Linked DNA regions of Homo sapiens: region 1 is linked to region 2. The links come from fine-mapping of genetic effects on gene expression. A gene starts in region 2. The other region holds a variant in brackets. All regions are shown on one strand. Distances are from middle to middle. Region 1 overlaps CCDC13 (coiled-coil domain containing 13). Region 2 holds the start of HIGD1A (HIG1 hypoxia inducible domain family member 1A).

Evidence for each region. PIP is the estimated chance that this variant, and not a neighbour inherited with it, causes the effect.
Region 1: its variant is fine-mapped to the expression of HIGD1A in whole blood (TOPMed, PIP above 0.99).

Annotation. Positions count from the first base shown.
Region 1 is chr3:42,748,167-42,764,586 of GRCh38, forward strand. It overlaps CCDC13 (coiled-coil domain containing 13), which reads right to left. Exons shown (of 16, transcript NM_144719.4): 2 at 9,959-10,185; 3 at 8,900-9,048; 4 at 4,409-4,551; 5 at 3,770-3,859. The coding sequence starts at 10,179. Among named protein-coding and RNA genes, the nearest start is that of CCDC13-AS2, 14 kb to the right of the region's middle. The variant G/T (reference allele first, on the strand shown) is at 7,993.
Region 2 is chr3:42,798,532-42,808,586 of GRCh38, forward strand. HIGD1A (HIG1 hypoxia inducible domain family member 1A) reads right to left here and starts at 5,959. Exons shown (of 4, transcript NM_014056.4): 1 at 5,905-5,959. It also overlaps the pseudogene MIX23P4. RefSeq lists a silencer at 5,915-6,134 and an enhancer at 6,996-7,793.

The DNA.
Region 1 (16,420 bases), 47 kb before region 2:
CTCCTGTGACTCATAGATATTTGACAAAGGGACCTTCAAGGTCAGCCCATTTAAACCCCTTCCATAATGATGAAAATAAGGCCCAGAGAGGGGAGGTAATTTGCCTTCAGGCATACAGCTGGTTGGGGTGACACAGGTGGGATGAGAAAGAATACTTGTCCTTCCCCTGCCCTGGCTGACTCTTCCAATTTAAGCTGCTGTTAATGCTGGGCATTGTGGCCACAGGAACGTTGGTTGTCAGGCTGAGCATCCCATCAGGCAATGACGCTGAGGCCCTCTGCTGCTGCCCCAACAGGGCAAAGCAGCTGAACTTCAGGAAGCAGGGCTGGTACTACAGTGGCTTTCTGACCTTTCTCTAGCAGGCACAAACAAAATCTCCTCTGAATGCTAGTGTGAAAGACAGATCCAAGTATACTGGGTCCGGGAAGTTCCATGGACCCCAGAGGCTCTGGGCAGCCCAGCTGAAAACCACTGGCCAAAGAAACTAGACATGAACACCTGGTCCAGAAACTCTGGCCTCATCCAGTGTCCTCATCTATGGAATGAGTATACAAATACTTTCCTGCTCCGCTTCCTCAGAGCACCACCATCAGGCTAAAGAGAACAGCCAACGTGAACAGAATGTGCCAACTCGGAACTTATATGAAACATAATCTCAGCTCACTGCAACCTCCGCCCCCCCGGGTTGAAGCGATTCTCCTGCCTCAGCCTCCCGAGTAGCTGGGATTACAGGTGCCCACCACCATGCCTGGCTAATTTTTGTATATTTTTTAGTAGAGATGGGGTTTCACCATGTTAGCCAGGCTGGTCTTGAACTCCAGACCTCAGGTGATCCACCTGCCTTGGCCTCCCAAAGTGCTGGGATTACAGATGTGAGCCACCGTGCCCGGCCATCCTTTTTTTTAAAGTATATTTTCTTCTGTGTTCTTCCTCCTGTCTGGCCGCCTGCCATCCCTGCATACTCTGTTGGGTGCCTGCCTCTTCTCCTGTTGAATGTGTGGCTTTGAATCTGCCCTGGGTTGGGAAGCAACACCCCTCCACCCCCTGCCACGCCCCGCCCTGCCTGTCAGATCTCTAGCGCCATGAGCCCCAGTGGCCCTGACAGTGGGGGTGCTGAGAGCTGTGGGAGTACATGTGCTTCCATATGGCTGCAGTGACCCTGCAGCATCTCTTTGATCTGCTCAGAGCATGGAAAAAGCATACAGATTGGATCTGGCTCTAGAACCTGGGCAGTGATGCCCTGTCCAAGCCTCATTTTCTCATCTGTAAAATGGGGATATGTAATGCCAATCTCCAGGGAACCTGAGAGGGTTGCTAGGACAACGCATGTCAAGGGTGCTGTCTGGGGCAGGTCCTGATGGAGGGCAATGCTGGCAGGCCTAGCCTGGCTTGAGTGGGCAGCTGACAAGTGGGCTGAGGGCTAGATGGTGTTCTGGAGAGGGCTGGATCAGGCCCCGTCCTCCTAGCTTAGGCAGTTGAGCTAATCCTACCTCTAAGCCATTTCAGAGTTCTTTCTTCCCAGAGTGAAATTCCACAGGCTTTGTGGGGGACCTGGGTATGGGTACGCTCCCTCCCCTACCCGAGGCTGTTTTCTTTGAGAAAATAACTAAAGCGCAGTACATGGGGAGCAGATGATGCCAACGCTACTCACATCACGGCCTCCTGAAGCCCCAAGCAGAGGGAAGGGTGTTCAGCTCCACTCTGGAATGTGCTTTGGAGGCCTAGGGTTGGAATGTGGATTGAGCCTGCAGGCCTCTGGAGTGTGGCTCGGGCTTGGGCCGCCCTGAGCAGCCTATGAGGGGAAACATTGCTTTTGCTCTCGCTCTGATCAGGAGATGCCAGGGAGAACACGTGGTGCTGATGAATTGAGACCTGCGGCCCATCACACACTCTTCTCTCAGAACCTGGAACCTCCCAGGCTCCCTGTGGCCACAGAATAAAGTCAAAACTCCTGCTCCAGCTGCCATTCAAGGGCTCCCTCTATGGGTGACTTCACCCCAGCTTTTTTGGCTTTCGTTCCCCTTTTCTCCCGTGTGAGCTCTGGGCTGCAGTCAAATGTTATCCAGCTGACACTCAGTTCACCTTCCCCATCTTCCTTCTCCAGTAAGGCCAGCTCAGGGACGCCCTCCTCCGTCCCACCTTCCAGCTGCAACCTTAATGGAGGGTGGACTCCCCTGTGAGCTTAGAGCACCGGGGCCATCTCTGAAGGCCCTGTCCACATCCTGCCTTCGAATGACTTCTCATTCCTCCTCTGGGATTCTCCATAGACAGAGCCTCTGTTTTTTTGGTGGTTGTTGTAGTTGTTTGTTTGTTTGTTTTGAGACACAGTCTCACTCTGTCACCCAGGCTGGAGTGCAGTGGCGCTATCTCAGCTCACTGCAACCTCTGCCTCCCAGGTTCAAGCGATTCTCATGCCTCAGCCTCCTGAGTAGCTGGGATTACAGGCGTTCGCCACCATGCCTGGCTAATTGTTGTATTTTTACTAGAGATGGTGTTTCACCATGTTGGCCAGGCTGGTCTCGAACTCCTGGCCTCAAGTGATCCATCAGCCTCAGCCTCCCAAAGTGCTGGGATTACGGGCATGAGCCACCTCACCCGGTCAAGGCTCTATTTTTGATTCTCTGTGCCACAGGGCTTAGAAAATCCCATCAGGCTGAACAAGCAGTTTCCTATCCAGGGCAGCCCTAGTTCGGAATGTGGAGGTGCTCAATGCGTGGAATAAACCAGGGGCAGCTTAGCAGTGTCCCCTGAAGCCAGGAAAGGCCCTGAAGAATACTCAGCCCCTGTAGAGGGCAGAGCCCCTCTTCTACTTCCCCAGCAATGAGACAGGTTTACACAAGACTACTCTTGAGGAGGCACATTCACCTCGGAACCTGAGGGCCCATCCCCGCCGGAACCTGAGGGGCCCATCACTGCACAGCGAGGACTGAATTATCCTCAAGGAAGGCACAGGGCAGTCTGATCCTGAGGTGCAGGCAGCAGGGAAGATGGGGCTAGAAAACAAGCACCAAATTGGGAGTCCCGGGGCTTGGCTGCCTCTCTCACCAACTGGCCTGGCTTCCCAAGAAAACCCTTGGTGAAGCCTCCTGGAATGTTAGACTCTGATGATATTTACTATCTGATTTGGGGATAAACCAACCCACTAGGTCAGACTGACTTCCTTTCATGGAGCTGCAATTCCCACCTCTTGAGTTTCATGAACTGTCACTGGTTTAGTAAAATGGGCTCTGGGGAATAAGTCCCCATTTCCAATAGCCACTTTTACTCTGTAGATTTGGAGCCCCACGAAAGGGAAAGTGTTCATAATATGAACTGCCCCATAAAGAACAGGATTCCACTGGGCAGTAGTGAGCTCCCTGTCCCTGGAGTAAGGTGGAGTCTGGATGTGTCCCCAGTGAGGATGCTGTACAGGAGATGGCTGGGCTGACAGTGGGAGGTCAGTTGGACCAGGCCTTCCCTCTTGATCCTCAGGCTCTAGTGTTCCAGGGTTCTCAGGCTCCTCCCAGCCTTCCTTTCTGGAGACAGAGTTGGAGCTACACCCTCCATAGCTTCCGACACGACATTCTTGGCCTCAGGCCATACACTCGGTACTGTTCTCTGATGTCTGCTCTGAGGATGCAGCAATGGTAGACAATGGGCACCTGGCTCGGCAGCGGGGTTGGGGGTTGGGGGTGGACCTCGGGTAGAGGTACCTACACACCTGTGGAGGAGGGGAGGCCCAGGCCCATGGCTGCCTCACAGACTTCCCAGCACAGAAGAGAATTCATACCAATGCTCTGTCTCCCATCTGGGCCCTCGGTGGCTTGGCTCCTGCGTCGGTGGCCCCCTTGGCTGACAGCCTGGTCAGGGCTGTCTGCAGCTGAAAAAGCAAACCTCGTGCTTAATACTCTGCTCAGCGATTGTGCAGCCCAAGGAAAGCACTCTGGTGCCATTGTGTGTGTGGTTACCTATCTTGGTGGTGTGTCCTTTTAGCTCACTTTAGGATCATTAATGGCAGCATTCTCCTTTAGAAACCGCTCTGGAATGGAGAGGGTTTAATTGATTGTCTGACCCATTCCCTAATCGTACTATAAAAGTAGCCCAAGGGTTTACTAACAGCTTAATAAATAATAATGGTACACTTATAATCTGTCTCCTGAAGTTCCAACAATAGTCTAGGAGGCGGGGCAAAAAAGAATGATGGATTTCAGGTTACAGATGAACAGATGAGGCCAGAGACACCAAGAAGCCTGTTGGAGGGCAACAGAATTGGATTTAAAATGCAGCACCACCATATACTGCGTGACTTGAGAAAGCCTCTTAACCTTCCAACTTCAGCTCTCCCGGCTACATATGGAGAAGCTAGGGAGGTTCCCTCTTGCCCATGCTAGGAGTCCCCTCCAGAGGGAGAATGACCAAGGCCCCTCACTTCCCGCTCCAGCTCCTGGATGCGATTGGTCAGCTGCTTCACCCTGGTTTTTGCACCCTCTGATTCTGCCATCAACAGCCGGTTCTTTTTTGATAGCTCCACAATTTTGGTGGCGACCACGTCTCCGGCTACACCGGCTGTCCCTAAAATGAAAGGAATGGTGAGGTCAATTAAAAACACAGGCATACACATCAAACTCATGCTCCACCACTAACAGCACCAGGGTCTTAAAAGCTAAAGCTGCTTGGCATGAATGCTCATAAAGGGGCACTAACTTAGGAGGGTCACCATATACCTAGCAGCCCTGGGACCCAACTCCAATGAGTGGAAATGCAGCCACTCAGAGGTTCAGTATGTTCTAGGAAAATGATAAAAACAGAAAGCAGAGTTTTAATTCTGTGAGACTCAGGTTTATCACTCCGATGCTTCATGTAATCCTCAGTGATAGGATTACATCCATATCCCAGTAATTTTGCTGTGCCCTCTAATGAGCAGGATGTAGTCCCCTTGGGCCTTCTATGACTCTGGGCTCAACCATTTGGCTTGCTTTGGCCAATAGCATGTTAACAGATAAGGTGCAGATAAGGTAGAGGCTTGAAAAGCACTCGTGCAGTTAAATTCGCTGTGTTTGCTTATGCCCTCTCCACAGGAAGAACATACCTGGCTGGCTGGTCTCAAGAATAGAAGAGAGACATGTTGAACAAAGTGGAACCAATCTAGCCAAGCCTGGCCTAGATCGGCCAATCCCCAACCAACCCCCAGATGTTTAAGCTAAATAAATGCTTACTGCTGCTGAGATTATGTGGTTGTTTCTTAGAATTTGGTGGTAACGCCTACCCAATAGAAAGGCATACATTCATTTAGCAAATATTTATTTTCTACCAAGTGCTGGGTCCTCTTGGTGTTAGGGATTCAGTGGTGGATAAAAAAGACTTATGGGGTTTACATTCAAGTAGGGAAGACAGATAATTTAAAACATCAAAGAAATAAATATGTATTCTAATATGTAGCAGGAATAAGTGCTAGGAAATACACTGGAGCTGGGCAAGGGGGTAAGAACGAGGGAGATGATGCTATTTTAGATGGAGTGGCCAGGAAAGGCTCTCTGAGGAGGTGATGTGTGAAGAGAGACCTGAGTGAATGAACTGAGGGCTCAAACCATGAAGAGTGCTCTCACCTAGGAAGAACATTCTAAGCAGAGGAAATGGCAAGTACAGAGGTCTGGAGGTGGAATGTGCTTAGAGTATCTGAGGACCATCAAGGACTCCAGAGTAGCTGGAAGGCTACTTGCAGTGGGCAAAGGAAGGAGGCTGTGGAAGGTGGCTGGAGGATGTGAATGGGGAAGTTGTATGGTATGGGAGCTGTGTGGAAGGCAGGCACCGGGAGCTAGTCCAGCATCGTCATCGACTAGGTGGGTAGCCCTGACAGTCCCTTGCCCTCTCTGGAGTGCAGCTCCCCTATCTGTGCAATGGCAGAGGTGGTCAGATGGTCTGCAAGTTTCCTGAACACTTCTGACACCATAGCAGGGAGTAACTGGCAGTCCTATTTTTTAGTCCTGCTTTTTAACATGACCATCATATGCCTCAGAACAAGAAGAAGGGTGACAACTGGTGGAAAGCAAACAGGCACTTTATGGCTTTCAAATCACCTCAGCCCAGGCTTGCTCCTGCCAGCCTGGGCGAGGCAGTGAGTGGGGCAACTAGGAGTAGCTGCCCTTGGAATCTCATGTCTGCTGAAGAAGACAAGGACACACCAAGAGAAAAGGCTCAGAGCAGACCTGGAGCCCTGGAGTATCTAGAGGGAGACAGGCCCCATTCAGCACCAAGATGGCACACTTTGCTCCCTGGCTCCTTTAATAGGTTGTGTGTCAGGAGGGTAACGGGGGTGGTGATAATAAAGGATCACTGTGAAAATCATGAACTCTAGCAGTTAAAGAAATGCAGTTTCAGCAGAGGTCTGGTTCTGGTTAAGATGGAGTAAGCGCACTCTACCCTGTCTCTTTTGCTGAATACAACCAAAAGCCCTGGATAGGATGTGTGAAGCAGCTACCTGAGGGTTCCGGACATAAATGGTAGCAAGCATATTGGGGAAGGAAACCGGACCTAGAATTACAAATGGTCCAGTGGTACGTTTCCTCCCAGGACTCAAATCAGCACAAATTCTGGAACTGGCTATCAGAAAGAGGTTCAAGAGAAGGTCTTTCTAGTCCAAAGAGCAGGAAGTGGGGCTCAGACAGAATGGAAAAAATCCTCTGGGTATTTTTTTTTCCTATTCTTTCCCAACCCTGTCTCCAGGCAAGCTCTACTGTTGAAGCTGCAACCCCTTGATAAATGGGGGCGGCAGTGGATGGGCAAACACAGAAATGCTAACTATCTGGCTAAATAGAATAGTTTTCCCTTTGGGTTCTTTAAAATACATATAATAGTTGAGCAAAAAGTATAACATTGACTGATGGGATTTTCAATATATATAGATATAATACATATAAAAACTGCAATAGAAAGGGAGAGGTAAAGGGACCTGAATGGTGGTAAAGTTTCTACATTCCATTTGAAGTGGTAAAATATTAGTTCTACGTAGACTATGAAAAGGTAATAAATATTTTGTAATCACTAGATCACTAAAAAACTGTACGAAAAATATAGTAAGCAAACAAAACCCAAAGGAATCACTAAAAATCCAGCCAAAAGAAACCGATCTATCAACTCTCAGTAGCCTGTCACTTGCAGCTCAGTTTAAAAACATAAATGGAGGCCAGTCGCGGTGGCTCACACCTGTAATCCCAGGACTTTGGGAGTCCGAGGCGGGCAGATCACAAGGTCAGCAGTTCGAGACCAGACTAGCCAACATGGTGAAACCCTGTCTCTACTAAAAATACAAAAATTAGCTGGGTGTGGTGGCACACACCTGTAATCCCAGCTACTCAGGAGGCTGAGGCAGGAGAATCACTTGAACCCAGGAAGTGGAGGTTGTGGTGAGCCAAGATCGTGCCACTGCACTCTAATCTGGGCAACAGAGCAAGACTCTGTCTCAAAAAGAAAAAAATTAAAAACATAAATGGGCTTGTCAGATTTTCTCTCCAAAACGTGAGAATGAAAATCAGAAATGGTGACTTCAGAGTGAAGACTGGATTTAAGTGGTTTTCAGGGACGCTTAGGGCTGGCAGTCAGATGAGGCCACAACCAAGTCTGGGCTTTGGCAAAGCTTGCAAGAGACAGTTAACAATGAGAGGGGCTGGGGAAGAGGGAGTAACCCCAGATCTGCTTCCCAGGTCTGCTGGGTGGAGATGTATCTCCTGCTCCCCCTGGAGCCCATCAGCTTCTCTACAGCCTTGCAAAAGTGCAAGTGGCCCCTTCCACAGCTGAATCTGTAACCAGGCTGAGTGTAGGCTTCCTTAGCCAGGCTTTGTGTTTTTTGTTTCAGACAGAAAAGGCCAAAGAATGGAGGGAGGTGCATTAGGCTACCATGAGTCTTTAGGATACCAAATTCCCCTTGCTTTGTAATTCAGCATTGACTGACCAGAGCTTTGGTCCTATGAACGTACCTATCCTCAAACGCATTTACTCTCAAAGGCAAGGACAATA[G/T]TCTGGTAGATGCTGAGTCAGCCCTGTTGCTCTCCGTGATTGGTGACATCTATAATACTTTCTTATTTATTAGCCATCTGCGAATTGCTCAATGGGTATATACATAACACAGGACAATCAAGTCCAAAGTCCTCACTACATCAGCAGGGCAAAAGTCAAACTCATAACCACAGAGCCAATGTCCAGCTCACAACCATGATCAAAGGTCATTCCCAGACCTGCAAAGCCAAGGTCCTCACCAGACTCATGGGGCCACCATGAGGTCTCCACCAACACAGCCAAGGTCTAGCCCAGACTTACAGGGCCAAGACCCAGCCCACACCTTGTTGGTGGTTGGGTCCCATGATATCCTCCTAGAACAGGTGACTCATCTACCTTTCTGGAGCAGCAACAGCAGGTGCTGTAGAGTTCATACCTGGCTCTACTGGGGCTTTTTTTTTTTTCAAGACAGGATCTCTGTTGCCCAGGGTTCAGTGCAGTGGGGGTGATCATAGCTCACTGCAGGCTGCTGGGCCTTTTTTATGTTCACAACATAACATGTGAGCCAGTGCACCAAGGAGAAATGGATCCTGCCAGCCCCTTTACATGCTGCGAGCATGATGGCAAACCCTTGTCATGAGTCCCAGCTGGATCACCAACATTGCCTATGATGCTTGCCTGCTGGCCCTTCTGGCCCATTTTTAAATCCCTCATTGCTCCCTGTGCTCCCATTTTCTGGTGGGCTGGCCTCCCTGGGGCTGCTCTTTTCCTCTACCCTCTCCCTCACTTCCAGGACTCCTCTGGACAAGCTTGATCACAACTGACCCTTGGCACTCTCTTGGGAATCTGCTCTCTGGAACCTGCTGTCTGCCCTATCTGAAGTCCCTGGACTGCAGGGCAAGGACTATCACAACAATGGTGGAGCTACCTGTGAAGGCAAATCTGTCCTCTTCTATTTTCTTTTTGAGGTGTTTGATTTCAAAGTCCCTTTCCTTCAGCAGCTTATACAATCGCCCGTTCTCGTCCACCGTTTCCCTGAGCTCATTTCGAAGGTGTTCAATCTCATCTTCAAGCACCCTACAAGGCAAAGGCAGAATTAATGCTCCTCCAAGGCAAAGGCCCTGGTGGGCAGGGGTCAGGCCTCCACTGCCTAGGTGGACAGATGGACACGCAGATGCAGACACACTGACGTGAAAGAAGAAAGATTTCAATGTCGTTCATTAGCTGGCTTAAATAGGGAGTTATAAAAAAACCCACTCATAATTCATATTTCTTTTAAGCATCCATGGAACATGCATAAAAATATATTACAGGGCTGGGTGTGGTGGCTCATGCCTCTAATCCCAGCACTTTGGGAAGCCAAGGCAGGAGTTTGTGACTAGCCTAGGCAACAAAGAAAGACCCTGTCTCTAAAAATAAAAGAAAACAAAATTAGCCAGGCATGGTGGTGTACACGTGTAATCCCAGTGACTCTAGAAGCTGAGGTGGAAGGATTGCTTGAACCCAGGAGCTTGAGGCTGCAGTGAGCTATCATCCTGCATTCCAGCCCGGGTGACAGTACAAGACTCTGTCTCTTAAAAAAAAGTATTATAGGTTATAAAGGGAATCTTAGCAAATTCTAAATAATAACATTATACAGACTATTTTCTCTAATGGCAAGTGACTGTTTTAGAAATCAATAATAAAAAATAGAAATAAAACAAGAAAACCCAAAACTCATCATATGCTTGGAACTAGAAAAACACCCTATACTCCTAAATTATTTATGGGTTAAGAAGAAATCATAATATGTATTATAAAGCATTTAGAATGGATTGACCACAGAAGCTGTATCAAAACTTGTTAAATGCAGCTATAATTAAGGCTCTAAGCTTCCTTCTATCACTTTAGCTGCATTTTACAAGTTTTGCTATAGCTCCGGTGGTACACACACACACACACACACACACACACACACACCCCTGAGAGATTTCAAACTTGCATTTACCTCTTCTCAAAGCTATTTTTCGAGTTTGGCTCCCCTGCGTGGAGAAGGCTGAGGCCATCTGAAACCTCCAAGGGCTCCTCTTGGTCGTCAGCTCTGCTTTTGAGGCTCAGTTCTTTTTCCCTCTTTTTCTCCATCTGCTTCTGTAACCGTTTGTGCTGCATCTCCTGCATTGCCTTGAACTGGAGCCGCAAAGTGTTCTGTGAGCTTTCATCTGCTGCCATCCTGCCCTAGGCATCAGAAATGAAGCCTCAGCTGAAGCAAACTCCACACCGAGCGCTCAGCACACAGTCCGCCCTGTCTGCAGCCCCAGCCTTGGAGTTTACTGCTTCGCGTTGCATGTATGTCCACGCAGAAGCTTGGAAGCTCCACCCTCACCTCAGATCACTAGAAACCCAAGGTTGAACTGAGCATCCTCCCCAGTTCCTGAACATGCCACCAGATTGCACATGGCATCAGAATAGTCTCCATCACTCAGACTCAACACTTGACTCTTGCCTGTCCCTTAAATCAATGGTTCTCAACTCTGGTTGAACATTGAAATCCCCTAGGAACTCCTAAATAACAATGCCTGGGACCATTTCCAGACCAGCTAAATCCCAGTTTCTAGGAACAGGGCTTGGCCATCATTTCTTCTTTTTCTTTTTAAATTCAGGTATAATTCACATGCAATAAAGTACATAAATCCTGACCATACGGCTCAGTGAATCTTTCCATAGACATATACCTCTGTGGTGACCACCCAGATCAAGGTACAGGGCACTTACGGTCCCTGAGCAGGCTACTTTGTGCCCCTTCCAGTGAATCATCCCCCAAGGTAACCATTATTCTGACCGCTACCACCTAAGATTAATTTTGTCTGGTTTCTTTTTAGTCAGTCTATCAAAGAATAATTTATGTACAATAAAATCCACCAGGTTGGGTGCAGTGGCTCATGCCTTGCAATCACAGCACTTTGGGAGGCCAAGGTGAGTAGACTGCTTGAGACCAGGAGTTTGAGACCAGCCTGTATAACATGGCAAAACCCCATCTCTACAAAAAATTGGTTGTGGTGGTGCATGCCTGTAGTCCCAGCTACTTAGGAGGCTGAGGTGGCAAGATCGCTTGAGCCCAGGAAGTGGAGGCTGCAGTGAGCCATGATTGTGCCACTATATTCCATTGTGAGTAACAGTGAGACCCTGTCTCCAAAAAAAAAAAAAACACAAATTTTATGTGTACAAATGAGTTTTGACAAATATATTCACTTGTGTAAACCACCTCCACCATCGTGAAAGAACATTTTCATCACCCCAAAATCCTCCTTTGTGCCCTTTTGCAGTCAATTTCCAGCCAATCCCAATCCCAATCCCAGGCAAACTCTGGTCTGCTTTTGTTCACTACAGTTTTGCCTTTTCTGGAATTTCATATAACTAGAATCATACAGTCGTTAGCCTTTTGTGTCTGGCTTCTTTTTTGCTCAGCACTACCTTTTTGAGATTCATCAATGTCATTGCACACATTATAAGCTCATTCGTTTTTATTACTGAGTAATATTACCTTGTTTAAATAAACAAGAATTTGATTATACATTCACTTGTTATTGGACATCTGAGCTGTTTCCAGTTTTGGCTATTATGAATAAAGCCGTTATGAACATTCATGTATAAGAAGGTATTTGTGTGAATGTATGTTTTTATTTCTCTTGGGTAAATACATAGAAGTGAAAATTCTGGCTTATATGGTAATTTATGTTTAACTTCATAAGAAACTGCTAAACTGTTTGCCAGAGTGGTTGTACCATTTTACATTCTTACTAGCAATGGGAGTCCCAGTTGCGCCATCCTCGTCAGCATTTAGGCTAGTCAGTCTAAATTTTAGACTTTCTCATTAGTATGTAAAATGGTATCTCAGCCGGGCATGGTGGCTCATCCCTGTAATCCCATCCCTCTAGGAGGCCGAGGTGGGTGGATAAACTGAGGTCAGGAATTCGAGACTAGCCTGACCAACATGATGAAACCCCATCTCTACTAAAAATACAAAATTAGCCAGGCGTGGTGACATGTGCCTGTAATCCCTGCTACTCGGGAGGTTGAGTCAGGAGAATTGCTTGAACCCAGGAGGCAGAGGTTGCAGTGAGCTGAGATCATGCCATTGCACTCCAGCCTGGGCAACAAGAGCAAAATTCTTGTCTCTAAATAAATAAATAAATAAATAAATAAATAAATAAATAAATAGGCAGGGCACAGTGGCTCATGCCTGTAATCCCAACACTTTGGGAGGCTGAGGTGGGTGGATCACCGGAGTTCAGAAGTTTGAGACAAGTCTGGCCAAAATGGAGAAACCCCATCTCTACTAAAAATACAAAAATTAGCTGGGTGTGGTGACACAGGCCTGTAATCCCAGTTACTCAGGAGGCTAAGGCAGGAGAATCACTTGAACCTGGGAGGCAGAGGTTGCAGTGAGTCAAGATTGAGCCATTGCACTCCAGCCTGGGCGAGGTTGCAGTGAGCCAAGATTGCGCCATGGCACTCCAGCCTGGGCGAGGTTGCAGTGAGCCAAGATTGCGCCATGGCACTCCAGCCTGGCCGAGGTTGCAGTGAGCCAAGATTGCGCCATTGCATTCCAACCTGGGTGACAGAGCAAGACTCTGTCTCAAAATAAATAAATAAATAAAATATAAATAAATTAATTAATTAAAATAAAATAAAAATAAAATGGTATCTCAATGTGTTTTTAATTTGTATTTCTCTGTTGACTAGTTATGTTGAGCATCTTTTCATGTGCTTGTTGACCATGTGTATATCTTCTTTTGTGATGTGTCTATTCACATTTTTTGCCCATTTTTAAATTGTATTAGACAATACAATTTACAGTCACAATACAATCACTCACTGTTACTGAATGATCAGTTTCTTGTACATTCTTGATACTTTGTCTGTTTGAACTTCACATAAATGAAATAATAGAGCACAGACACTGGAATTATTAAATGCTCCCCTCACGATTTTAAAGTGTAGCCAGTGGTAAGCATCCCTGCCTTAAACCAACCTCAAGCCACATCATCTACCTATCATCCAATTAATCATAAATCTTGTTTATTTTCCATAAATGTCCTAAAATCTGCCCCCATGTCTCCATTCCCACTGATACCAGGCTCATAACCACCTTGGGGTATCTGCACTTGCTGTTACCTCTCCAGGAATGTCCTTCCCCCAGACATCTACCTTACCTACTTCCTCTCAAATGTCACCTTATCACAGAGGTCTCCTCATATCCTATTGTAGAAGGCATCCCTGCCCTCGCTCCCCATGCCCTTGCCCTGTTTTGTCTTCCTCCATGGCACTGAGAGTCATCTGACACATTATATTTTGATTTGTTTACTTGTTGACTGCCTCTCTCCCTCCCCACCAGCTTCACAATGGCAGGCACTGTGTTGTTCATTGCTGTATCCTCAGTGCCTGTAGCAGGGCCTGGTATATGGCAGGCATGGAATGAATACTTGCTGAACAAATGAATAACATTTGCTGAGGGACAAGTTTCTCTAAACCACAGCTCTGAGCCTGACAGACTCCTGTGCAAAAAGCTTCAGCAGATGCCCCTTAGCCACAAAGCCAAGTCCAATGGCATTAAGCGCTTTGGATTTGGCCTCTGTGTCCTTCTAGCCTGTTTTCCCTTTCATAATGCTAACTTCTAGCTAGTTGTGTTGACTTGCTCCTCTGTTCCTATACCTCCTTCTCCCCCCAAGGCTTAAATCTTGCTGGTCCTCCTACACCCAGCATGAATACCATGGTCCTTTTCTGACCCGCCAGGAGGAATACTCTACCTACCCAAACAGCTTCAACTGCTCTATCTGTACCTTCTTAATATACTTATCTCCATCTCACACACAGGGGTGGTCCCAGAGCCTGTACCCAGTTACTCTTAAACTTGCTTCAATACCAAATCCCCAGGATACAATCTAAAAATGCTGATAACCAGGCCCACCCCTAGAGAATCTGATTTAAATTAGTCTGGAGTGGAGACCAAGCATGGGATGGTTTAACTGCTGCCCAGCTGGTTTTAATGTGCTGTGGGCTGAGCCCAGGGTTTGGCAAAGGTCAAACAAAAGCAGAAGCTGGTGTTATGTTGAAATTCCTTACCAGGCAGCTCTGCCCAGTAAGAGGAACTATAAAGAATTAACTCTGAAAACCTGTATTGTGCACACCCGCACATTCCAAAAAACATGTTTGGCCTTTGACCCGCTCCTAAGAGAGAATCTCTGAGCCCTTGGACCATCCTTCCTGATGAGAGTGTTTTTCTTCACCTGGGGACCTTGGGCCATTCCAGTCCATGTTAATTAACAATGTGATTCATTGCCAGGTGCAGGGTAGGCTGGAGGGGGCTGGAGATCGAGTGACTAAGGTCAACTGTACCTACGTAACCATCTCCTAATAAAAACCCTGGACACCAAGACTCAGGGGAGCTTCCCTGGCTGGCAGTACTCCATGTAAGTTGCCACGAATTGTTTCTGGGAGAAGTAAGTACTGTCAACATGACTCCACTGGGAGAAGACAACTGGAAGCTTGCACCTGGTGTCTCCTGGACTCTGCCCTATGTGTCTCTTTGCTGATTTTGACCCGTATTCTTTCATTGTAATAAACAATACATGTGAGTATAATAGCTGGCCCAAAGGCTATATCCTTTGTTAAAAGATAAACGTTAGGCCAGGCATGATGGCTCACACCTGTAATCCCAGCACTTTGGAAGGCCAAGGTGGAAGCACAGCTTGAGCCCAGGAGGTTGAGACTACAATGAGCTGTGATCGCGCCACTGCACTCTAACCTGGGTGACAGTCAGACCCTGTCTCCAAAATAAAAAAAGAAAAACTTTAAACAAATCAAATTTAACAGAATTCAACTGAGCAAAGAATGATTCACAAATCTAGCAGCCCCCAGAACCAGAACAGATTCAGAGTGACTCCAGGGCTGCCACCTAGTCGAAAAAGATTTATGAACAGAAAAAGGAAAGTGATGAACAGAAAGCACAAGTGAGGTACAGAAACAGCTAGACTGATTACAGCTGGCTGTTTGCCTTTTTTGAATACAATTTGAATAGCTGGCTGCCTGTGATTGGCTGAAACTCTGTGACTGGTACAAGAGTAGATTGCAGTCTGTTTAAATTCCTAGTCAGGTTACAGTTTACTACGTACAGAGAAACCTTTAGGCTGAACTTAGAATATATAAGAAGGCAGCTTTAGGCTACAGTTAGTTTAACACATCCCACAGACATTTTTGTTTGGCTCTTACAGAACACTATGTTAGGATTTGAATTTGTTGCCAACATTCAAAGAATTGTAGTTTCAATATCAGATTTCCAGTGTCAACAAAAACAGTCAAACTCTGTAAAATATTTGAAGAGATGTACTTTTTTTTTTTTTTTTTTTTAGATGAAGTCTCGCTCTGTCACCCAGGCTGGAGCGCAGTGGCACAATCTTGGCTCACTGCAACCTCTGCCTCCTGGGCTCAAGCAATTCTCCTGCCTCAGCCTTCTGAGTTGCTGGGACTACAGGCATGCACCACCACACCCAGATAATTTTTGTATGTTTTTGTAGAGACATGGTTTCACCATGTTGGCCAGGCTGGTCTTGAACTCCTGATCTCAAGTGATCCACCCACCTCAGCCTCCCAAAGTGCTGGGATCACAGGTGTGAGCCACTGCACCCAGTCTGAAGAGATTTATTCTGAGCCAAATGTGAGTGATCATGGCCTGTGACACAGCCCTCAGGAGATCCTGAGACCACGTGCCCAAGGTGGTCAGGGCACAGCTTGGTTTTATACATTTCAGGCAGACCTGAGACATCAATCAAATACATTTAAGATATATACCGATTTGGTCCAGAAAAGCAGGACAACTCCAAGGTTGGGAGGGGGGAGCTTCCAGGTGATAAGTAGATTTAAAATTTTTCTGATTGGTAATTGGTTAAAAGAGTTACTATAAATAGAAAGGAATATCTGGGTTAGAATAAAAGAGATAAAAGTTTTGATCATGCAAATGAAGCCTCCAGGTAGCAGGCTTCAGAGAGAATAGATTGTAAATGTTTCTTATCAGACTTAAGGTCTGTGTTGATGTTAAATGTTGGTCAACTTTTCCTGAATTCCAAAAGGGAGGAGGGTATAATGAGGCGTGTCCAACCCTTGCTTCCCATCAAGGCCTGAACTGGTCTTTCAGGTTAACTTTGGAGTGCCCTGGCTGAGAAGGAAGTCCATTCAGATGGATGGGGGGCCTCTGAATTTTATGTTTAGTTTACACCAGCTTCTTTTATAAAAGTTTACAGATCTGGCAATGCTGGGCCCATCGTCCCACACGGACAGCAGCTGCTATGCAGAGAGTTCCTTTGGTGCATAATAGGTTCTTTCCATTAAACCACTGTCCCTGCCACCTCCAGATGCTGCAGCTGGCACATCAGCTGCCCATTATCACTGCACATAAATGTTGTTCTTTCTCTTA
Region 2 (10,055 bases):
TGAGGGGCGCCTCTGCCCGGCCGCCCCTACTGGGAAGTGAGGAGCCCCTCTGGCTGGCCAGCCGCCCCGTCCGGGAGGGAGGTGGGGGGTCAGCCCCCCGACCGGCCAGCCGCCCCGTCCGGGAGGGAGGTGGGGGGGGTCAGCCCCCCGCCCGGCCAGCCGCCCCGCCCGGGAGGTGAGGGGCGCCTCTGCCCGGCCGCCCCTACTGGGAAGTGAGGAGCCCCTCTGCCCGGCCACCACCCCGTCTGGGAGGTGTGCCCAACAGCTCATTGAGAACGGGCCAGGATGACAATGGCGGCTTTGTGGAATAGAAAGGCGGGAAAGGTGGGGAAAAGATTGAGAAATCGGATGGTTGCCGTGTCTGTGTAGAAAGAAGTAGACATGGGAGACTTTTCATTTTGTTCTGCACTAAGAAAAATTCCTCTGCCTTGGGATCCTGTTGATCTGTGACCTTACCCCCAACCCTGTGCTCTCTGAAACATGTGCTGTGTCCACTCAGGGTTAAATGGATTAAGGGCGGTGCAAGATGTGCTTTGTTAAACAGATGCTTGAAGGCAGCATGCTCGTTAAGAGTCATCACCAATCCCTAATCTCAAGTAATCAGGGACACAAACACTGCGGAAGGCCGCAGGGTCCTCTGCCTAGGAAAACCAGAGACCTTTGTTCACTTGTTTATCTGCTGACCTTCCCTCCACTATTGTCCCATGACCCTGCCAAATCCCCCTCTGTGAGAAACACCCAAGAATTATCAATAAAAAAATAAATTAAAAAAAAAAAAAAAAAAAAAAGAATCTTATAACTTCCAGCTGCACGACTCCTAAACCATAATTTCTAATCTGTGGCTAATTCATTAAACCTACAAAGGCAGTCTAGTCCCCAGGCAAGAAGGGGGTTTGTTTTAGGAAAGGGCTGTTACCATCTTTGCTTTATTTTTCTATTTTTGTTTTATGAGACAGGGTCTAGTTGCCACGCAGGCTGGAGCACGATCTCGATCTTTGCTCACCGCAACCTCTGCCTCCGAGGTTTGAGTGATTTGTGCCTTAGCCTAACAGCTGGGATAACAGGTGTGCACCACCATGCCTGGTTTTTTTTTTTTGTATTTTTAGTATAGATGGGGTTTTGCCATGTTGGCCAGCCTGGTCTCAAACTCCTGGCCCCAAGTGATTTGCCCGCCTCAGCCTCCCAAAGTGCTAGGATTATAGACGTGAACCATCATGCCTGGCTCCATCTTTTTTTGGCTAGGTCAGATCTCTTTCACTGTCTCAGTTATAATTTTGCAATGGTGGTTTCAATCACAGTGTAATTAGTTGTCAAAAGCCTAACACAGACAAGGTCTGAATTTAGAGAGAGTGATGTATTTTAGCTAAAGGAGGTTTGGCACGTTTCACAGAGAAACACTTGAGACTGGCTTTGAAGAAACTGCATAAATGGACTGGATAGAGAGATTAAACACTGTATTTATTTTAGGCCAGTATGTTTACTAGTTGCCTTCATATCTAATCATGAACTTCTCGGGCAGGTGCGGTGGCTCATGCCTGTAATCCCAGCACTTTGGGGCACCAAGGTGGGCAATCACTTGAGGTCAGGAGTTCGAAACCAGCCTGGTCAACATGGTGAAACCCCCATCTCTACTAAAAATACAAAAATTAGCTGGGCATAGTGGTGTGCATGCCTGAAATCCCAGCTACTTGGGAAGCTGAGGCAGGAGGATCGCTTGAACCCGGGAGGCAGAGGTTGCAGTGCGCTGAAATTGTGCAACTGCACTCCAGCCTGGGCCACAGAGAGACTCTGTCTCAAATTTTAAAAAATAAAAGAAAAAGAAAAAGAAAAAGAAAAAAAAAACATGACCTTCTCAAAGGGGAAGTTTATCACAAATCCTTTCATTTCCCTTCCCAACCCCACATTCTGACCACATTAAATATTTTTAAGATGCTCTCTATACCTCTAAGCCTTTGCACAAGCTGATTCCTCTACTTGTGAGAGTTTCCCTCCCTTTCCATCCCCTTCAGATACTCTTTCCTAGCTAACTCCTCCCATTTTTTTTTTCAGGTTTGGTTTTTCTTTTTTTACACTGAGTCAGAACATTATTTTAATAGTTACAAAACTTTTTTTTTAACAGAATCAGTATAAAATAGCAGTTGATTTCTCCATAATTATCAGAATTATTTATATTTGAGGTCTTGCCTAAGTGGGGCTGAAATCAACAAAAGGTCTTGGACTACTGGCTCAGAAATCATCCTAGGAAGCCCGCCCTGTTGACATTTGTCATGCTTAGCTCTTATGAGATGACCCGGTCCTTTAAAAAAAAAAAAAGTATCTCCGTTTATTCTGTTTATTTGGAGGTTTGAAGTGAATTCGGCAGCATTCATTAAACTCCTTCCAGCTCCTGTCATTTATCATTCTGACTACATCCATTTCAACTTTGCCTGCTCTGTTCTGAGTTGCTTTAACAATATTAAATCGTCCAAATTCTTTTCTCTCTCTTCTCAGAGGTTTTTTACTACTGCTGAGGTCTGGGCTATATAGTTTTTTATGACTCTGTCCCTACTGGCATGAGCTGCCATCAAAGACTCAAAGTTGTTTACAGGTTTGGCTGGCATCAATCTTCCCTGCAAAGGAAGCTGTTGGAACTGTAGTGTTTAATTAATGTACTAGTCTGTATCAACTGTCCACATCACCTTGAGTAATTCCTGGAACTCGGCGAACTCCTCACAGTTCACACTGCCACTGGGTGCCACCATACTGGACTCAGGTTCACATCTTAATTGACCTCCTCTCAGAAATTTTTGTCTCTTTAAGTTCGTAAGTGCTTTGGTTATGCAGTCCCATAGGACCTTGTACTTTCCTTATAACCCTTATAAGCACCAGTTTGTCTGTTTCTTTTGCTAGAATCCTTCAAGTCAGGGACCAATACCTGCTCTGCTTGTATCCAACTCCACTGCCTGGTGCAATACCCTATATATAATATGTACACTACAAATGTTTCTTGAATACATTTAAAAGTTACATTTCTCAACAACTGAAAGCATTCTTAGGTTATTCAGTAATATTGAGTACAAAAAAATAACAATCATACAGATTTGTAGAGTTTAATCAGTAAGAAAAATGCCTAACTGTATGTACCTAAGTGCTTATTTCTTTTATGTTTCTTATATTGTACCTATGAAAAGAGAAATAACCTGAGGTCTTAGTTCCTTGCAACACAGGGGACAAAACTATTATATACCATAATCCACTTTTAAAAACTAAAAACTTCTGCAGATATAAAAGCATGTTTTCCCCTTTTTTGCCTGAATCATTTCTAAACTAAAAAATCATTTGGGAATTGTCTTTAAAAGCAAGAAAGTTGGTAGCCGGGCATGGTGGTGCACACCTGTAGTCCCAGCTCCTCAGGAGGCTGAGGCAGGAGGGCTGCTTGAGCCTGGAAAGTGGAGGTTGCGGTGAGCCATGATCCAGCCACTGCACTCCAGCCGGGGCAACAGGCAAGACCCTTGCTGAGGGACCCAACAAACAAACAAAAACAGGACATAAATCGTTTTTTAAAAATAGCAAGAAAGTTGGTAGTTTTTCTTATAATTATCTCACATCTGGCTGACTCTAATTCTCCAACAGGTCAATGGAGCAAAAGGTTTTTTTTTTTTTCTCCTTTCAGGAGGGAGGGGGTTAGTTGTCTCTTTCCTGTATATAAATCAAGAACAGAAGAAAACCTATTTCTCCGTTCTTCATCTATGATACAGACTCTGAAGCTTGTATGGATAGGGCATTTGACCTGGGTTTCAGAAAGTAGCCCCTGCGGTAAGCATCAGGGTGTGGGGAACAAAATGGTCATTATTTGCTTGAAACGACAGATGATAATCTGTCTGTGATTCCAGAATACCTTATGTGTACATTTCAGAATAAAATTAGTAAGGATTAATATTTAAAAATCCAACACATATCAGTTATTTGTTATTCTGTAGTCAAAATATTATAATTCCCATATAGTACATATCTAAAATACTCTCTGAATACAAAATTTTGATAACTGTCTAATTACCACGTAGAAGTTTCCAAAGTATTCATGGTTTATAGCCACCTGAATTGAAAACTGGTTAAGTATCAGGAACAATAAGTTCTAATCATATAATTTGAGAGTAACAAATCAGATGAATAATCCAAGCCAATAGCCTTATTTTACAGGTGGGGAAAGGGTTGTGAGAGGGTTATACGAATTGCTCAGTACAAGGAATACATGTCTGGTGGGGTAGGATTAGAATCCAGCTCTTCTGATAGAGAGTCCTGGGTTCTTTTGATTGACGATATATTGCCAAAGCATCAATCTTACGCTGCTGATGTAAATTAGATTAAATTGGCAGATAAGAATTCTGATTAGAAAATTTAAGAATCCATTACTCAACAGAAGCCCACGTTGTTCTCTTTGAATGATATATATAAAAAAATCATGCCTAAGGTAAACGGAATCTTCTTCAGTGACTTAACTCATCTAACAATTTCAATTGTGATTTGAAAAGACTTTTTTCACTACACCACTGCCAGACTTTCCTTCATTATCGTTTTCTCATCCACCCACAGTAGTTGTCCCAGATTTCTGTCAGAAAGTTGAATAGACGCTAAAAAAGGCACCAGTAACCAGATATTTAAAGTCAGTTTGGAGAGCACAAATTAATTCTGTACGCTTAGTAAGACACGACTGAAGACCTTTCCACAGGGAACCTAAAGAGGCATTAAGGGAAGATGAGCCGTCCAGCATCAGGAGACGTAACAGGTTGAATGAAGGATCTTTCTTCACAGTCATTTTGTCACGGGAATTACTATCTAAAGCAACGCTGGCTTCAAACTGATTTTGCATCAGTCGCCCATCAGCTTGTTTAAAATGGCTGCCAAGGCCCCAGCATGGAGATCCGGATTCAGGTGGTCTGGGGCAGAGCTCAAGGAATCTTTAAGAAGCCCCTTCAAGTGACTCTGGTGCACAAAGAGAACTCCTAGTATACAGGACTCCAAATATGTGTGTCATGCTGGAGCTTCATGACCAGGTTGTCACCGCTTCAACCTGTTAGAACTTTCCATCCAAACCTGTCTTACTCCAAAGTGCCTTTGTACTTCCGGAAGCAGGGATCCCTGTCGTGGGGATTACTCCGAAGAGGGAAATAGCTGCTTCCCACTCCGGGAATTTAAGACAAAGGCGAATATCACTGCTGCATCATGTCGGCTGCTCCTAATTCTGCCCTTACGCTGTGCTTTGTAATCTCTAACCCGCCGACTCGGCAGGAGAAAAATTTAATTCGGTCACAGAAGCACTACACAGGACCCTAGGCCTTATCACTTTCCCAGGGTGGAGGAAACACCAGGTCGGGGAGAAAAGCAAGACCAGGACTGGAAGGTCCTCTGCTAGTACGCCCTCCCCTCAACCTCCCGACCTTCCTCGCCGCCTCTCTTCCTGTGACCTTGTCGTGACTCCGTGACCGGAGCGCTCGCTCTCCTATCCCGCCTCGCCTGCCGCTTAGCCCGCTCTTCAGAATGTTCCAAGCTCCGGGGAAGCTCCCGCTCCTCGCTCCCCGCCGTCGGGCCCAGTCAACACCCTCCTGGCCCCCGTCTCTCATTACCACCCCATCAGCGAGTCTTCCCCGCTCGGCAACTCACTCCACAAGCTTCTGCTCCATCTCCTCGCTGGCTCCGTCTCCCCTCACCCGAAGGACCCTAGGCCTCGGCTCCCGACTCCTCTCATCCGCCCATGCTCGAGGCCGGGCCTGAGCCCCGGCAACTCCACCTCTCCTCCCTCATTCGAGACACGGACTCCCAGCCCCCACCCCCAAAGTCCTTTCGGCCTGGCCAAGCGCTGCCCCACTTCTTCCCGCCCCGCGGCCCGAGTCCCTGGCTCGCAGTCCCCCGGCTTGTTTCGCTTACCTAGAGCGAGAAAACCTCTCACACCCCAACCGGCTTCCGATCCCTGCAGGCGCACCCAGTCCTCCCGGCTTCTCCCCACCCACAGCCGTCCCAGCCAATCAGAGGCCAGCGGCCGCAAAAGGACGCGTGCGTGTGCGCGGCGGGTGGGGCAGTGCAGAGCGGGTCCTGGATTGGCTGGGCCGGTGAGTGCTGGCCCACTACCCCGGCTCTAGCGTACTGGCGGAGACAGACGTGAGAGCTCGGCGCCTGGGGTTCGCGCCCGGGCACTTGAGGGGCTTTGGCTCCTGGCCCAAGGACTCCTCAGATTTCTCCTGCCCTTTTCCCCTCGGGCAGCGGAGGCGAGCACCGCGAACGCCGTGTCCCGAGCGCCGCCGCCTGCGGACGCCTCACGGGCCGGGAAGGGATGCGGGTGAGGGGTTTCGGCTGCGGGTGAGGTTGTGTTCCCCGACCCACCCGGGTCCGACTGCTTGTTCTCGCCGTTCAGTAACGAGATGCAGACAGACTGGGAAAGAACGGAGTTTATTTCTGCAACAGGTTACAGGGAGAAGGTCGGAGTAACTCACCAGACCAACTCAAAATTATTAATACAAGTTTTTCTAGTGCTTAAATACATTCAGTGCATTTACAAGTCGAAAGCCAAAGTGTTTCACTCAAGCCAATCTTTAACGGTAATAGGGTCAGGTGTCTAGACAATTGCTTCAGAGCCTTGGAAATAATCTAAAGTGGGTCCTGGTACAAGGTGTGCAAGAACAACTCCATTATTTTAATTAAACTCTAGGGGTTGAAAAAGCTCAGGCGGGATCCTAATGGACTTGTCTTTACATTCTAGCCTTTCTCCTAAGGCACCAGTTTCTCCAATGTTTAACTTATACATGCATCAGAATGACAGTGAGGCGTTGGTGAGAGCTGCTCTGGTTGCTAATGGAGATCTGGCCTGCCACAGTGGGAGCAGAGCTTGCCCAGTGCGCCGGGACGACTGCGGGCTCCATCCATTCCGCTCCCAGGGCGGTTGTCGGCCAGGACCGTGAGCTGTCAGGTCCCCCGCGGGATCCTTCCTGGAGCTTACACTATAGTAGGAGGCAGCCAGTACTTGCAAGCACGGGGTCGCGGGAACTACGACCTCACCCAGGCCAGGCGACCTTTCTCTCAAGAAGGAGATGTCAGAGGCCCCTCGTGACAGCGAGCTTCCGGGGACAGGGCTCCTAATGTGTTTGTCAAGTAAATAATGAGTAATAATCCGGCCAATTGGTGGGTCAACGAAAAAAGTCAAACTCTAAGATATTTGAAGAGATTTATTCTGAACCAAATGTGAGTGACCGTGGCCCCTGACACAGCCCTCAGGAGGTCCTGAGAACATGTGCCCAAGGTGGTCCAGGCACACTTGGTTTTATACATTTTAGAGAGGCATGAGACATCAATCAAATACATTTAAGAAATACATTGGTTTGGTCCAGAAACGGGGGACAACTCAAAGGCGAGAGGGGAGGGGGCTTCCAGGCTATAGGTAAATTTAAACATTTTCTGGTTGATAATTGGTTGAGTTTGTCTGAAGACCTGGGATCAACAGAAAGGGAATGTTCAAGTTAAGATAAAAGATTGTGGAGACCAAGGTTCTTTTGAAGTCTTGTAGTGGCTGCCTTTAGAGACAATAGATGACAAATGTTTCCTATTCAGATGTTTGAAAGGTGCTAGACTTTTAATCTCTTTAGGATTGGGGGGCCTGGAAGAAAAAGATCTAGCTATGTTATAGGGATTCTTTACAGATGAGAATTTTTCCCCGCAAAGGACAGCTTTGTATGGCCATTTCAAGATATGGCAAAGAAATATGTTTTGGGGTAAAATATTTTTATTTTCTTCCTTGTCTTATAATGTTATGCCAGAGTCAAGTTGGAAAGTAAGTCACGATATATAGAGTTAAATAAAACCCATTTGATGATAACTTATTATTTGTGGGGCATGACTCCCCAGACCCCTTAGATAGGAATTTGGGCATGATAAAAAAAATCAGAGCTTAGTCCTCAGATGCAAAGCATCTACAACTGCACCATGGAGAAATCTGTGATTAAGTTAGAGTTTCTTGATATAACCACAAAACAAGGCAGACTACCAAGTGCTCGTCATACAGATAGGAACTAAATGTCATGGGCTCAGGATTTTGAAAATCGTTCATCTCATAATTAAGATACATGTAAGAAACATTTCATGCTATGGATGATTAAGAACTTCATACTTCGCTGGGCACGGTGGCTCACGCCTGTAATCCAAGCACTTTGGGAGGCTGAGGCAGGCGGATCACCAGGTCAGGAGATCGAGACCATACTGGCTAACACAGTGAAACCCCGTCTCTACTAAAAATACAAAAAATTAGCCGGGTGTGGTGGCGTGCACCTGTAGTCCCAGCTACTGGAGAGACTGAGGCAGGAGAATGGCGTGAACCCGGGAATCGGAGCTTGTAGTGAGCCAAGATCGCACCACTGCACTCCAGCCTGGGTGACAGAGAGAGATTCTGTCAAAAAAAAAAAAAAAAAAAAAAGAGAGAACTTCATACTTTGATTATATGGTAGCTTTCAGCTCCTTGAAGGCACATATTTTGTCTGGATGATCCTGGTATCTCCTTGAATGCTGCCTGTGTGCTCAATAGAAATTCAATAATGGTAAATGAAGAAAGATGTAAATGCTGCAATAACTGGAGGGTTTAAAAGATAAGTAGGGATAGTCAGGAACTATAGGATAAACCCCACTGCCTTCAATATGAAGGTCAACCGGAAGTCATTAGTCTCTTGATTCTGTAAACACAAAGGCTAATGGCAGCAGTGACCAAAGCATATTCATTTCTGAAGGCAATGTATATGCCTCAAACTAACATCAGCTAACTTGTTAATTTCCAGAGAATAAGATATACTGCCCCATCAGCGGAGAGCAACTAGTTGGCAACATACTAGCCGTGACCTTGGATTTGATTTCTCAAAGTGTCACTTTTTTCACTTGTAAAATGGGGGGTAACATGAATGATGGTTAAAGAGGAAATATATGTAGCATGTTAGCCCCATGCTTGGCATGAAAAATGTTAGCTATTGCTTTAAAAATTCCTTGCTGTGTACTGTGCAAAAAGAGTCAGACCTTGCCCTTGAAGCTGTAAGTATAAGCACCTTTTAAACCAATTACTATTAGGGCTCCCAATCCAGACCCCAAGAGAGGGTTCTTGGATCTCCTGCAAGAAGTAATTCTAGACGAATCCATAGAGTACAGTGAAGGCAAGCTTATTAGAAAAGTAAAGGAATAAAAGAATGGCTACTCTATAGGCAGAATACCCCCAAGGGCTGCTGGTTGCCTATTTTTATGGTTATTTCTTGATTGTATGCTAAACAAAGGGTGGATTATTCATGCCTCCCCTTTTTAGACCATATAGGGTAACTTCCTGATGTTGCCATGGCATTTGTAAAATGTCATGGTGCTGGTGGGAGTGTAGCAGTGAGGATGACCAGAGGTCACTCTCGTCGCCATGTTGGTTTTGGTGGGTTTTAGCTGGCTTCTTTACTGCAACCTGTTTTATCAGCAAGGTCTTTATGACCTGTACCTTGTGCCAATCTCCCATGTCATCCTATGACTTAGAATGCCTAACCTCCTATCTCATCCTGTGACTTAGAATGCCTAACTGTCTGGGAATGTAGCCCAGTAGGTCTCAGCCTTATCTTACCTAGCCCCTATTCAAGATGGAGTTGCTCTGGTTCAATCATCTCTGATGATTGATTGGTATAAAGGTCAAATAGCTAGTAAGTAATAGAGGTAGAGGACTGTAAACTAGGAATTTTGATTCCGCTATATTTTAGGAATATAGTATCGCTCAACAGCAAGTAATTTTTAAGACATAGAAAGGAAATACATTTTTATATATAAGCTGGACTCTATTCATAATATTAAAAAATAAGGATTTAGACAAATTATAGGATGACAGATCCACATAGATAATTTAAGGAAGTTAGATATGCACTCTATGGCTACAACTGTGTGGAAGATGCACATTTGTCCCCCAAAATCTCTTTATTGAGGCTACTGGTATACACTACTTGGTAGAATTGTCATTAGTCTGACCCAGTTTGAATGACGGTTGAATTTAGGAGAAAAAAGTCCCATCTTTCGACAAAAGTGTA